Homo sapiens: one gene and its partner. The protein of the gene in region 1 interacts with the protein of each later gene in a biochemical or structural test. Each region holds a gene or a part of one and is shown on either strand. Other genes may lie near its edges.

Region 1 (7,472 bases):
ACCACTGCTTTGGAAAACAATTTGGCATTACGCAGTAAAGTGAAGACACATATGGTGGCCCAGCAGTTTTATCCCCAGGAATATATTATGAAGAAACGAGTTCCCATGTGTCCCCAGGAGACATGTACAAGAAGGTTACCTCCTCTGGGTCTAACTTGATCCTCTGTATAATGGGACTCACAGTGCTTAACCTTATAGGGAGAATTCGAATTAAATAATTGAATTAAATAGAATGTTTGTAAAGTGCATAATTTAGTGCCTTGTGTCTAGTACATGCTTAATAGTAACTGCTTGCTAGCAATAGTAATATAATTGTTGGTTAGTCTCATCAGCTGACATCTCAGAGAAGGGCCATTTTAGGATTGGTCTTTTCTGAAGGAAACCAGAACTCTCCAAGTGATTGAAAAGTTTGAGAAGATCAAGGGACTATCCCCTTCCCATCCTTATTGTCCCATAAATTCCTAAGGGCCAGGGTTGAAGGGCAGGGGCTGAACTGTGTTGTTTTGGGGCCTGCACACCTTTGGGTAATGCGTATGGACAGCTGCTTCACTCCTGTCACTTAACTAATTTGGCAAATCACTAAATTTTCCTTTTGAACTGTATTACATGATTTTGTATCAAAAATCTCATTCTATAAAATAAAACATTGGAATGACATTTCAGTGGTTTTGTGGGGGCACTCATGCAAATTAGAGATGATATACTACAGAAAACAAAGTTTAAAAATCTTAAATATTGTCACTTAAGATTAAAAGATCAAAATGAGTTGAAAATAAAACAGAACTGCAGAAAATGAAATCAGTAACCATTTTGTTTTCTGTAGTGAAAGACTTAAAGGAATGGGCTACTGAGTGGGACAAATGGGCTAGTTCTCTATTTCCTAGCAAATTGCCCCAAAACTTAGTGCCTTAAAACAAACATTAATTATCTTTGAGTTTCTTTGGGTCAGGAATTGGGCCTGCCTTAGCTCTGGGTGCCTCTGCCTCAAGGTGTCTCATGAGGGGCTGCAGTCAGGGTTCTGTGGGCTAGTTCTAACCAATGGGCTAGTTCTCTATTTCCTAGCAAATTGCCCAAAACTTAGTGCCTTAAAACAAACATTTATTATCTTTGAGTTTCTGTGGGTCAGGAATTGGGCCTGCCTTAGCTCTGGGTGCCTCTGCCTCAAGGTCTGTCATGAGGGGCTGTAGGTATGGAGCTGTGGTCTCATCTGAAGGCTCAGCTAGGGCAGGATCCTTATTTACACTCACATTTGTAGTTGTTGGCAGGATTCAGGTCTTCACGGGCTGTTAGCCTGAGAGCCTGAGTCCCTCACTGGCTGTAGGTCAGAAGCCACTCTCAGTTTCTTGCCCCAGCAGTCACTCCCAGGGCAAATTACCACATGGGCAGCTGGCTACCATCCCAGTGAGCAAGCTAGAGAGAGGAAGGCAGGGTGTACACAGCCTTTGTCGCCTAACCTCAGAGGTGACTTAGTATCACTTGCCACATTCTTTTGGTTAGAAACAAGTCACCCACAGAGGAGGGGATTTCACAAGAGCATGAGTATCAGGAGGTGAGGGTCACTGGGGCCACTTTAGAGGCTGCCTGCCTGAATCTGTCCTTTGCCCCATAAGGAGTCATGTCCCTCCCACATGCAAAATGCACTGGCCCTCTCCCAAGCTCTCCAAACATCTCATCCCTTTACAGCATCAGCCCAAAGTCCAGATTTGTCATCTAAATCAGGTCCAGATGGGAATGAGGCTTTGGGCGACACATCTGTATAATTTATTGCTGCATATCCAGTCACCCCGACATTTAGCAGCTTAAAACACTCTCATCTCACAGGAGGGAGGGATCACTGGGTGCTGTCTCAGCAGCTGCCTCCATAGCTGTCCAGGTTCACGTCCTTCCACATACTAGCTGTGTGCCCTTGGGCTGGTCATTTCCCTTCTGTGCCTCACTTTCTCATCTATAAATGGGGCCAATAATATTACTTATCTACTAGGGAGAAGTAATGATTAAATGACATAATTTCTCAAGTAATTGGTGTTGTCCCTGGCACAGAGTAAGTACTGAATAAATGATAACCATTTATAATTATTTGAATTATTTTTCTTAAGAAAAAACTTGAGAAGCTTTCTGAGAATGTAGATCGAAAAGGATAATGAGGGAGAAAAAATGATAGGCCTAAGATACAAGAGGCAGGAATCCAACCTAAAACACTCTAGTGGTTCTTCAAGTTGTCCAAGGACATCAGAAACAATCATTAAAGTTTAAGAAACAAAAACTACTAAACCAAAAGTATTTGTGCCTGCTGATTAAAGTATTCCGTGCGATACAAGCAGTGTTAGAATGTCAGGATGCAGGAGGGGTATGGAGGGGCATGTTGGGCATGTTGAGGTGAGGCCTCATGGGAGGTAACTGAACCCCGTGGGAAATGACTGGCTCCACCCCCATTGTCAGTCACCTCACATTAGAGATTGCAGACCCATTCAGTTTAGGAAACTGCAGAGGGAACCTATGACCACACTGTCTGCAGTTGTCCACACAGCTCAGGGATTCAGACCCAGCATGAACCAGCTTTTGGCCCACATGGGACACTCTTCTGGCCTGTGCTGTGACCAACATGAGAGAGAGCAGCTTGCTTCTTCTCAGCCCCATCTCCCAGTCTGTACCAGGCTGGGCTACAGGATGTCTGAGGGCTCTTTATCCCATGGATGTCTGATTCAGGATCAGGACCTTACTTACCATTTGTGCCCAGAGCACTTGGCATGGATGGGGTTAGGCAAATGCAGTTGAGTTACACTTGTGTTGAAGTGGAGTCCCAGTTGTAAATGTGATGTGTCTGCCCTCTCTGCCCAGCCTCCAGCCCTAACCTGTCTTCCTCCCTCTCTCTCATTCCCATGTCAGGCCAAGTGCAGGAACATGGAGCATGCACTGCGGGAGAAGGCCAAGGCCTTCTGGGCCATGCGGCGCTCCTATGAGGCCATCGCCAAGCACAATCAGGTGAGCGAACGATGGGGCCAAGTGGGAAGATTGGGTCCACTCAGGGCAGTCTGGGGAGGAGTGAAGATGTGTCAGCCGTGGCTTTGGCTCACATAACCCGCTGGGTAGAGGTCGGCTGCCTTACCTCTGATGGTCCTGTGCAGCCACGTCCTGGATGCTGACTGTGGCTTCTCTGCCTTGGCCCCTCTAAAGACCCAGGCGTGGTCATGCCAGCAGCCACAGGAGTGACTTAAAAAGCTACCAACACCATCTGCACTATGGCACATGCATCATATCACTGCCACCTGTGTGTTCAATGATGACCTGGGACTCATGTACTTTCTTGTTTTCTTTCAGTTCCCACATCCACTCCATCAGCAATCCTATTCCCCTATCTCCAAAGTATGTTATTTCTGTAAAACCCTCCACCTTTTGGTCCAGGTCATCATCATCTCTCACTGGGCCTCCTGCCTAGGGCCTCATGCTTTCATTCTTGTGCATTCTCCTTTCCATGGACTGGGGTGATCGTTTAGAAAAAAACACCAGCCGTGCCCCTCCTCTGCTTAAAACTGCCAGTGGCTTCCAGTCACCCTCAGTACCACCCAGATTCCTTACCATGGCCTCCAAGGCCATCTCCTGACCCTGCCTATCCTCAACCTCATTTACTTCTCTGCCTCACCTTCTTTCTGTCCCTTAAGCAAACTAAGTCTTCTCCCCAGAACACATGCCCAGCATCTTTGCCATTAAAATCTCAGCTCAGATGTTCTCTTAAAGAAGCTTTTCCTGATCATCCTCCTCTTTTACTCGATGGCATAATTTCCTGGTTTATTTTCTTAATGACACTTCATTACCTGTAATTACCTTTTGTTTTCTATTTGCTTTTTATCCCTTCCTGTCAAAATATAATGAAAACAGGGCACACTATTGCCAGTTATCTAGAGGAGTTCTTGGCACACAATAGGTGACCAATAAAAATTGTTGATTGAATGAGTGAAGTGGGTAGGTGACCAATAACTGTTAATCAAATGAATGAGTGGGCTCCCTCTGTCCCCATTCTGGTTGTTCTGCCTGGCACCCTCTCTTCCTCCAGGTCCTGTGTGGATTGGCAACCTTGTTTCTGACTGTTGATCTTGGCTCTGGTCTTTGGCTTTCTGAAGTGGTTGCTTCTAGTAATTACCACTCTGTTAGACTCATCTTAGCCACAGCTGAGCCATGCCTGGTCCAGGTTGCTGGGCGCTGTCCTCAGGAGCCTGCGGTCCCCTCCACCATGTGTCCATAGGTGAGGATTAGTCCCAGGAAAGAGCCTCATTAACATTTGGCTGTGGAGTTTACCCTGAGCCACAGAGCTGGTGGAACAGTGTGGAAGAAAGGATTATGTGACACACTGGGTGCCAGGGCAGTAACCGCAAAGCAGACCTATTTCCAAATCTAAGCCCAGTTCCCCAGCAAATCCCTCAACCCCCTCCAAGCTAATCCCCTCCTCTGTAAAAAGAGGGCAATTCCCTTTTACTAGGGTTTTTAAAAAAAAATTTAGATAAGATAATGCATACAAGTGCCCAACAGAGACAAGTCCTTAACATTTCTGATGTCTAATAGACCAACAAACTGGTGGGAGAGAGTTTTCACTTTGTTCAGTAGATTATTTTGTCATCCGATGTCAGAGCCATAAATACATGTTGAAATTCCAACTCCAAATAGCGATTACGAACCTGCTGTTGCTGGAGTTTGTTGAGTTGTTTTTCCAGTAGTCATCGTGGAGTCATGTAGCTTTATCATTGTTCTCTTACTTGGTTTCCTTCTGTGGCTAAAGCCATATGACTGGCTTGCCTTGTACAGGACTGGGTTGGGGATACTTAGGGAGTATCTGTCTGTCTGTGTGGTGGCACTGCCTGCCCATCCCAGGGAGTGTAGGAGTCCTGAGCTTTTTGCTGAGGCTAAGGGTAATGAGGTCACATGGGAAGCCCCTAGAATTCCAGCCTGATTAGTACTTTTTCTATTAAATTCAGTTATCAGGTCGATGAGGAAAGTGAAAGTTCTGGTGTTTGTTCCTTTACAGTGAGGCCGTCATTGCCCACGGTGAGTGGGCAGGAGTTGACCTTGCACTTGCTGGTTTTTCCTGCCATGCTGTGTTCTTGATGTTTTTGTGTGATAAGAATTACTGGGGAGAGGGAGAGCATCAGGATAAATAGCTAATGCATGCGGGGCTTAATGCCTAGGTGATGGGTTGACAGGTGCAGCAGACCACCATGGCGCACATTTACCTATGTAACAAACCTGCATGTCCTGCACATGTATCCTGGAACTTAAATGTAAAAAAAAAAAAAAAAAAAGAGAATCACCCTGGATTCTACTCTCTCCAATGCAGACATTATCAGTCTTTTCAGCCTGATAGGTTAACCATGCTGTTTGTCCTCATTTGCATTTCTTTGATTATTGGTAAGTTTGTACATCTTTTCACAAGCATAATAGTCATTTATGCTTCTTCTGTGAATGCTAATTCACATTCTTTTTTTCCCTTGGAATATTTGTCTTTTCTCTTAGTGGATTTGTAAGAGTGCTTTGTACATTAATAATAATAGCCATTTGTCATAAATGTTGCAAATATATTTCCTAGTTTGTCATTTCTTTTTGAGTGGATCATTCTCAATTTTTTTGGCCATTTTCATTTTTTCAGTGAATCCTTTTCGTATATTTTCAGAGCTGTAAACATACACACAGTCCCTGGCTTATGATTTTTTGACTTTACTGTGGTACGAAAGCAATATGCATTCAGTAGAAACTGTACTTTGAGTACCCATACAACCATTCTGTTTTTCCCCTTCAGTACAGTATTCAATAAATTACATGAGACACTCAGTGCTTTATTATGACATAGGCTTTGTGTTGGATGATTCTGCCCAAGTGTAGGCTAATGTGAGTGTCCTGGGCACGTTTAAGGTAGGCTAGGCTAACCTATGATGTTTTTAGTAGGTTAGGTGTATTCATTGCTTTGACTTAACTATTTTTCAACTTATGATGGGTTTATTGGGATGTAACCCCATCATAACTTGAGGAGCATCTGTATTTAACTTTCAGTCCAAAGATGAGTTTACTAACCTGCCATTGCCACAGCACACATTTTGAATGGTTTTTCCAACAGTTGTCATGGAATTGTATTTTTGTCTTTAACTTTATGATAGTCTCTTGCCATACACACCTCTTATTTTTCTGTGTATTCAGTTATCTCATTCTTTCTTCAAGGCTTCTCAGTTTCATACTGTGCCGAGGAATGTCTTTCTTATTCCAAGCTGAGAAATATTTATTTGCTTTTTCTTTCATTACATTTATGGTTTTATCTTCCCTTTTAAAAAACTTTTTGTGAGGCTGGGCACAGTGGCTCACGCTTGTAATCCCAGCACTTTGGGAGGCCGAGGCGGGCAGATCACCTTAAGTCAGGAGTTTGAGACCAGCCTGACCAACGTGGCAAAACCCCATCTCTACTAAAAAATACAAAAATTAGCTGGGCGTGGTGGCGTGTGCCTGTAGTCCCAGCTACTCGGGAGGCTGAGGCAGGGAAAATTGCTTGAACCCAGGAGGCAGAGGTTGCAGTGAGCCAAGATCACACCACTGCACTCCAGCCTAGGTGAAAGAGCGAGACTTAGTCTCAAAAAGAAAAAAAAAAACAAACTTTTTGTGGTTGTGATTTGGAGTGTGTATATTATTTTAATGATTGTTTTAAAATGAATGCTTCCTACTGCTCTTTTGGTAAAGCCTCTGGATCAGACAAATTTTAAGTCCTAAGATTGGAAGGTAAATACTTAAAAAAAAATCATTGCTATTCGCAGCCATTCATTTCTATGATTCAGGACTTCCCTTGTTATGGTGCAACCTAAAGAAGGAACTGAACATTGTATGTAGATGAGGTTATAGTACTACAGTTGCCATCTATATAAGCTGTGATTTTATTTTTAAAAACCCTGTCAAAACAATCTAATATTAGGTTGTTGGACTTTCCCATTTGAAATCGGAACTTAGAAATTTGTGCTTATAAACTATTATGTTGATATTTTATCTGTAGGGGTTCTATACATGATTTATTTGAACATAAATTTCCTTTGCTAAAAATGGGAAAGTTGCTGGGCTATGGATGTCCTCTCCACATCTGACCCCTGACTCCTCCTGCTGTCTTCCGTAGGTGGAGGCTGCATGGCTGGAAGGCCGGATCCGGCAGGAGTTTGATAAGCTTCGCGAGTTCTTGAGAGTGGAGGAGCAGGCCATTCTGGATGCCATGGCCGAGGAGACAAGGCAGAAGCAACTTCTGGCCGACGAGAAGATGAAGCAGCTCACAGAGGAGACGGAGGTGCTGGCACATGAGATCGAGCGGCTGCAGATGGAGATGAAGGAGGACGACGTTTCTTTTCTCATGGTAAGGAGCTCAGCGTCTGGATTCAGTGACAGGGCCACATGTTCCAGGACCAGCTGGGAGCCATAGCCCACCAGCCCTGGCCAACGTCATCTTCCTGGAGCTTCCT
Region 2 (7,472 bases), on another chromosome or scaffold:
AATGCCTCTTTGTCAGAATCAAAGTTATGCCTCTGCTCCCCCTTCCCTAAATCTGAGGAACTTCTGCATTACTGACAGGAAAGCCTGGGGCCCCTGGTCCCTTTCCCTACACTCATGGTTGAGGGAGGGCTCGCATACCTTCAGAGCTCCCAGCTGGGCTTAGGGAAGTCTGGCTGTTAAGGGAACATTACTGAGAGATGGCACATCAGGCCAACTGGAACACAAAGGCTTTGCTGTGGCCTCCAATGGGCCTACAATCTAGGGACTGTATTGTGAACAAAATAAGATCTGAATAAGTGGGTTGGAGTAACTAATTCCACTCTTTTTAAAAACCATCAGCTGGCTCTTCTTAGACCTGAGATATGAGGGTCTTCCTGTAAAGACCTGGCTGGGGCCACTGAATATCAGGTCATACCTTTGGTTCTCTGGGGTTGGGCTTCCGGTGACATAATGCTCCCCTTTTGGCTCAGGGTGGCTCCTTGGCCTCACTAGCAAAGACCGCTCAGAGCTGAATACGGTGTGCCCTGGAGAGCTGCACAAGGATTAAGGAAAAAGCTGAGTGTAACTAAAGCTCTTTGGGGTAATGGAAAAATTACCTTAATAACCAGGTATCCAGGTGACAGCTGCTCTAGAGATTCCACTGTTATGTCTCTTTAAACCTGTGATTTACTAACATTCCACTATTCTATACAAGAACCTGGTCCCTCCCCTTTTGGGAGCGGGGAAGGGACACCAAATTAAACATACCTAAAAGACCTGGGAGGATATATACTGAAATTTTAATAGGACGTCATTGGGGTGGTAGGATTACAGAAAAAAAAAAATCCTCTTTATTAACAAATTTACTGATATAAATATAAAAATACTTTTATAGTAAGAAATTATGTGTACCTCTTTTGGAAATATTTATATGCATCCTATAAAATTGTTGGGAGGAAGTAAATGAAATGTGAAGACACCAATTCCATTAATCAATTGCTGCTCTATGCACTTCAAGAATAATCTGCTTTTAAAAGGTGGCAGAGAAAAGACGCATGTCTCAAGTTCTGTACACTGGGTTGTGATTAAAAAAAAAAAACGATACAAGTCTTAGGCCCTACATCACAAATGTACTGCAGAACAGTTTCAACGGCTTAAGAAGGTCAACCTTAATACATTCAGAACCTCAAAGCAAAAAAAAAAAAAAAAAAGTCCACAGGATAATCCCATGCCTCAAACCTGTTAGTTACATGCCCAAATCCAGCAAACTAGTTTGTTCTCAAGCTTTACAGTAAAAGCTTTTGACAATGTTCTGGTACAGAAGGGCTGCCTCCAAGTCCACGAGATGCCATTAGCAGATAAAATTATATTGGCCTCAAACACAAACCCTATTTCAACTATCTCAAATTAAATCTGATGCCTATAAGCTCTAATTTTTTGCCAATAAGTACAAAAATGACAAATGAAAATTTCTATAGTGGATTTACGCATTAGCAGTCAAAAAAAGCTTGCTTGTCAGCAAGTTCATCCAGACTCCAGATCTCATGTGTCCTTCATGCTCTCTACCCAGCCAGAGACCTCATATCTCATGCCCAGGTCTTTCCTCAGGCTCTGACCTGAAGCCTCCCTTGCAGGGAGGGCCAGAGCTCTCCTGCCTTCTCCAAAATCCTCCACAAGCCTCTTCCCAGCACAAACTGCCCATCCCACCAACCACGTACCTAGAGTTGTATGTAAAACACTCACTGGACTCCCCTGGCTCCAGGAGAGCAGCCCAGCCTTGGTTTCTCAGGGCGGACTTCTGGGAAAGACTCCTCTCCCTCATGCCAGCTGCCTGGACAGTGCCTGCCAGGACATGTGGCCCCACCCATGCCAGTCTGACTCACTATTGCATCCTCCTCCTAGGAAGGCACAGACATGCAGAGCCAACCTCCAGCCAGCAGTGGAAGCCTGGCGTATCCACTGATAGCAGCACACACCATGCCCAGGTCCAGGAGCCTTATTCTTGAGCCCGAGCCCCTGCAGTAAGATCTTCCTCAGAGCCATGTCTCCTCTGTGAGAAAGGAGACACCATCTCTAAGAGGCCTTAGTCTGGAGTGACAGGTTGGAACAGGCACAATCACAGCTCAGCTCCAAGTGCCCTATTCTCCCTTTCCTTTCTCATCTCAGACAGCTCCTGGCTTTTTATATTAGTTTCCTTTGTGTCAGACACAATTTTTTGGCCATTCTTCAGAAACCAGGAGACAAAAATCATAAAAAATACCCAACACTCCTCCCTCCAACTTTTTTTTTTTCTTTTTTTTTTTTTTCAGACAGGGTTTCACTCTGTCACCCAGGCTGGAGTGCAGTGGTGTGATTATATTATATTATAGCTCACTGCACCCTCAAACGATCCTCCAGCCTCAGCATCCCAAGTAGCTGGGACTACAGGCACGAACCACACCCAACTCCCATGCTCCACTTCTTAGGGCCAGGACTGTTGTTGGGTTGTGCTGGGAAAGATTCACGCTTCACTCCACCAATTCTTCCACAAAGGACCAAATCATTCTGCCCTAATAAAATAGCCTGGCCCGTGAGTCTGCATCTGCCTAAGTCATTTTTCCTTTGTACCAATTATGCTCCGATACCAACCTCATCACATAGATCAACTATAAAATGATGGCACCTGATGCTCACTTTCTCCCTCCAACGTTGCCAGTAGGTACCCAAGATTGTGTTCCTTCCTGTGACGTCAGTTTGCTACCTACACCTCCAAGCCATCATGAAGGCGTTTCGATCCACAACTCTTCCGAACACCTGCATCCGTTAGAAAGTCTGCATCATGATACGCTGGCATTCAGGTCAGCCTGCTCTCTAGTTCTCTTCCTCAACAATGGAAATGGAGTTTCTAAGATTTGCCCTAATCAAACTAGGCCAGCAACATGATCAAAATGGGTGACGGGCCAGCAGAACCTAGTAAGGTCTGGAATAGGCACTGTTCATCTTCATCTATAGTTAAGGGTAATGACAATAATGTATTTGCATATGGGTGCAGGATACAGAGGATAAGATATCTTCTAGCTAAGAGACCTGGGTCTTAAGCCCACACTTTAACCCCAGGAGGCCCCACAGCAGAAAGCAGTATGGTGTTACCAGGCTACACAGAACAAAATGAGCCCACTTGTAGGTTCTAGTAAAATTCCCTGGCTTTAAAAAAAAAAAAAAAATCTTGGCTCTTTTATTTCTTCGGGGCTGAAAGTAAATGACTTGTCAACAGGAACCTAAGGTCCTATTTCCAACTAGAGTGTGGAATAGGGAAGAGCAGCTGATGCTAAATGGGCCTACTTCCCTCAAAGACCACTCAACTTCAGGTGAAGAAGCCCTAAGTCAGAGACCCCTCAATGTCCTCAGATGCCGAGGATTTCCTGGTTCCATCCCAGCTGCTCAGTGCAGAGAACTGGTTTCAGCCTGAAGGAGGTGGTTTGGGGGAAGCATTAGTTGTCCTGGGACATGGTGCCTCCTTACTAGGATTAAAAGTAGGGCGGTGTTTCTGGGTATGATATCCACACTCTAAAATCAGCAAGGGACCTGGGACCCTGATTTAGGGTCCTCTTAAGTGCAACTAAGGTGGGTGATGGCCTCAGCAAAGTGAGGCACTGGCTCAACATTTACTGGAAGGGCTGCCCTGCATTCTAGTCGGGGGGATAAAGGAGGAAAGGCAGTGCCAACTCTCCAAGAGCACTGAACTAGTTACTATGACTGGTCTTCCTACGGCAGCCTTTATAGGTTTGCTTCTATGTTACGAATTAAAGAAAAAAAAGTTTTAACATCTGCCTCTCTACCACCCAGAACTGACCATTAACACTGAGCCATGGCTGGCTGTGTTGGCTCACGCCTGTAATCCCAACAGTTTGAAAGGCTGAGGCGGGCAGATCACTTGAGGCTAAGAGTTCGAGACCAGCCTGGCTAATATGGTGAAACACCATCACTACTAAACATACAAAAATTAGCCAGGCGCGCACCTGTAATCCCAGCTACTTGGGTGGCTGAGACACAGAATTGCTTGAATCCAGGAAGTGGAGGCTGCAGTGAACGGAGATCGCACCACTGCCCTCCAGCCCGGGCAACAGAGTGAAAAACTCTGTCTCAGAAAAAAAGGAAAAAAAAAAAAACACAAATAAAGGCTGAGCTGTATTTTCTTTAATTTCTTTTTTCTTTTTTTTTTTTTTTTTGAGATGGAGTCTCGCTCTGTTGCCCAGGCTGGAGTGCACTGGCGCGATCTCAGCTCACTGCAAGCTCCACCTCCCAGGTTCAGGCCATTCTCCTGCCTCAGCCTCCTGAGTAGCTGGGACTACAGGCGCCCGCCACCAGGCCCGGCTAATTTTTTTTTTTTTTTTTTTTTGTATTTTTAGTACAGACGGGGTTTCACCGTGTTAGCCAGGATGGTCTCAATCTCCTGACCTCGTGATCCGCCCACCTCAGCTTCCCAAAGTGCTGGGATTACAGGCATGAGCCACTGTGCCCGGCCCTCTTTACTTTCTAAAAACAAAAACAAGAATTTTAATTTTATACAGTTCATTTTTTCTCCATCCCCAAGCTCCTCCAACCCTTTCCACCTCCATCTTAAACTTTTTTTTCTATTTTATTTATTTAAATAGAGATGGGAATCTTGCGATGTTGCCCAGGCTGGTCTCGACCTCCTGGCCTCAAGTGATCCTCCTGCATCAGCCTCTCAAAGTGCTGGGATTACAGGTGTGAGCCACTGCTCCCAGCCACATCATGCATTTTGACACCCAATCACTGTCATGAACTCTATATCCTTCCAGTTCACTGAAGTCTATGTACAGTGTATCTATGTCTATACTGAACCCTATAATATTGTGGTTTTCTTAATGCCCTAAGTGGTATACTGTATATATCACTGAGTAACTTGTTTTTCACTCAGCAGCACATTTAAGATCCATCCAGTGGGTATATGGATCTAGCTAATTCATTTAAGCTGTTACACTAGTCCACTGTACAACAGACCATTTTATTTATGGACTGTCTTACTGGTGGCCACTCTCCCTCCCCGTTAAACTAAGTTTCTTCTATTAATCAATACTCTTGTAGTACATGTCTCCCTGTACTGTGTGAGTTTCTATATATCCAGAAATTGAAGTCTTAGGTCATGGAGTATGTTTATTTCTATTTTTACTAAATAAGGCTGAATTGCTCTCCAAAGTGGCTATATCAATGAACGCTGAGTTGCTGCCTTCCACACCTTTTTCCACACTTGGTACTGCCAGACTTTTTAAATGTTTGCCCATCGGTGACATTTGTTTTTCTGCTCATCTAATGTTAATAACCAAAGAGGGATACCCAGATAGTTTCAACGTTTACAACATCTCTATTTCCCTGCTTAACTCAATCAAATCTCCTCTGAAATGGCATGGTGGACACAGTGTGTCTTATGTGCCCTGACTGACTCCACTGATGGGCAGTTCTTTTTCGTTCATGGCCAAGGGAGATATCAGTTGTTTAAAATTGAAGAAACATGGCCAGGCGCGGTGGCTGATGCCTGTAATCCCAGCACTTTGGGAGGCCAAGACAGGTGGATCACGAGGTCAGCAGACTGAGACCATCCTGGCTAACACAGTGAAACCCCGTCTCTACTAAAAAATACAAAAAAAATCAGCCAGGCGTGGTTGCGGTTGCCTGTAGTCCCAGCTACTCAGGAGGCTGAGGCAGGAGAATGGCATGAACCCGGGAGGCGGAGCTTGCAGTGAGCTGAGATTGCACCACTGCACTCCAGCCTGGGTCATGGTGCGAGACTCCGTCTCAAAAAAATAAAATAAAATAAAATAAAATAAAAAATGAAGAAACATTATCTGCAAGTAAACTGAAGATGTTTGGAAGGGATAGGACTCCCTTCAGAGAATCTTGACTGCAGTATTCAGCCAGCAGCTGTGCTGGTCCACAGTGTGAAATGCTAGGACTGGCAACCTCACTGCCCTTGAATAACTGGTCTTGGCATCTCTCCCACTGCAGCCCCAGCCTGCTTCCAAGACTGCTTGCTGGCATGAGGAAAGAGGCTTAGGGCTCCCCAGGAGCTTTGTCTATGGACAGAAGTGGGGGAGGTGAGTCTCAGAGGCCACCGAAGGTACTGCAGCCGGCTTGTTCCCTCCTACGTGCAGACAAGCACAAACCACTGCAGGGGCGGGGCTTCACCGCACTGCATGGTAGGGGCCCTAAAGCACCCAACTCCTGAGCTGAGCAGTCATACCAAGAGGCAGGAAGGCCCAGCAGATGCTGCACATCACCCTCCACCACTCACCCAGGCTCACCTTCCCCCAACAGCTTCTTTAACAAAGTCCCAAGTATTTAAATTACTCAATTATCCAGTCTGCCCCTTGGTAAAAAAATGCAAGCTCCCCGCAAGTATGGTGGTATCAAAAATGGTCTTCATATATCTGGTTGTTTAGCTCTATTCCCATCTGTATCAGAACTGATGCTTAAAGGGACAACTTAAAATCCTTAAGACCTCATACCAAATAAACCAATCTCACGAAGACCCTTGAAGATGCAATAAAACTCTGCTCACAGGGTCAACGCATTCTTGTGTTATACCAGCTAATTGAGATTTGACTGTGGACTTTTGGAGTGATTCAGAAAGAAGGGTAATGTCAAATGAGTCATTTTCCTCTACTCCGGTCTCAGTCTTAGCTCTTGGCCAAGATAACACATCCTGACTTGCCTTCATAAAAGCTGAAGCAGGCCAGGTGCAGTGGCTCACGCCCGTAATCCCGGCACTTTGGGAGGCCGAGGCCGGTGGATCACCTAAGTCAGGAGTTCAAGACCAGCCTGGCCAACATGGTGAAACCCCATCTCTACTAAAAATACAAAAATATTAGCTGGGCGTGGTGCAAGTGCCTGTAATTCCAGCTACTTCGGGAGGCTGAGGCAGGAGAATTGCTTGAACCCAGGAGGTGGAGGTTGCAGTGAGCCGAGATCACACCATTGCACTCCAGACTGGGCAACAAGAGCAAAACTATCTCAAAAAAAAAAAAAAAAAAAAAAAAAAAAAACAAAAAACTGAAGCAAAATAAACTAAAACCCAAGTAAAGTGAGTTTGTAATGTAAGTGCTGCATTTTCTTCTACCTTCCTGCCCACGGCCGTTTCCTCATTTCTTCCATTGCCTCAATATTAAGAAATAAACAGCTTTAGGAAATAAAATGGTTTTTCCTGTGACCCCACATCAGTGTCACAACATTCAAGGCACAGAAGCAACTCCCATAAAGTGCTAGCTGTTTAGAGTCACCGCCACCAAATTTGCTAAGTCACTGGGGGTACGGTTCTTAAAGAGCTAATGATGCTCTTTGCTAAAATATGAATACAACATTATTTCTAATGCAATGCTTAAAATGAAAGCAGTTGTGCTAGACAGGAGACCAACATCCATACATTTTGGCTCAAGTCAGTAACTGAGAAATGAGTTCAAGAACCTTCTTTAAGTCATCATTAATCAAGTCCCAGG

Evidence for each region.
Region 2: the proteins of TRIM35 (region 1) and PKM form a complex in vitro, tested with the Homo sapiens proteins (one study listed by BioGRID).

Annotation. Positions count from the first base shown.
Region 1 is NC_000008.11:27,293,974-27,301,445, reverse strand, and holds part of TRIM35 (E3 ubiquitin-protein ligase TRIM35), read left to right. Parts: intron 1-2,886; coding exon 2,887-2,982; intron 2,983-7,135; coding exon 7,136-7,366; intron 7,367-7,472. UniProt on the Homo sapiens protein: E3 ubiquitin-protein ligase that participates in multiple biological processes including cell death, glucose metabolism, and in particular, the innate immune response.
Region 2 is NC_000015.10:72,220,753-72,228,224, forward strand, and holds part of PKM (pyruvate kinase PKM), read right to left. Parts: intron 1,820-7,472; exon of another isoform or gene 1,802-1,819; coding exon of another isoform or gene 1,698-1,801; intron 533-1,697; coding exon of another isoform or gene 416-532; intron 1-415. UniProt on the Homo sapiens protein: Catalyzes the final rate-limiting step of glycolysis by mediating the transfer of a phosphoryl group from phosphoenolpyruvate (PEP) to ADP, generating ATP.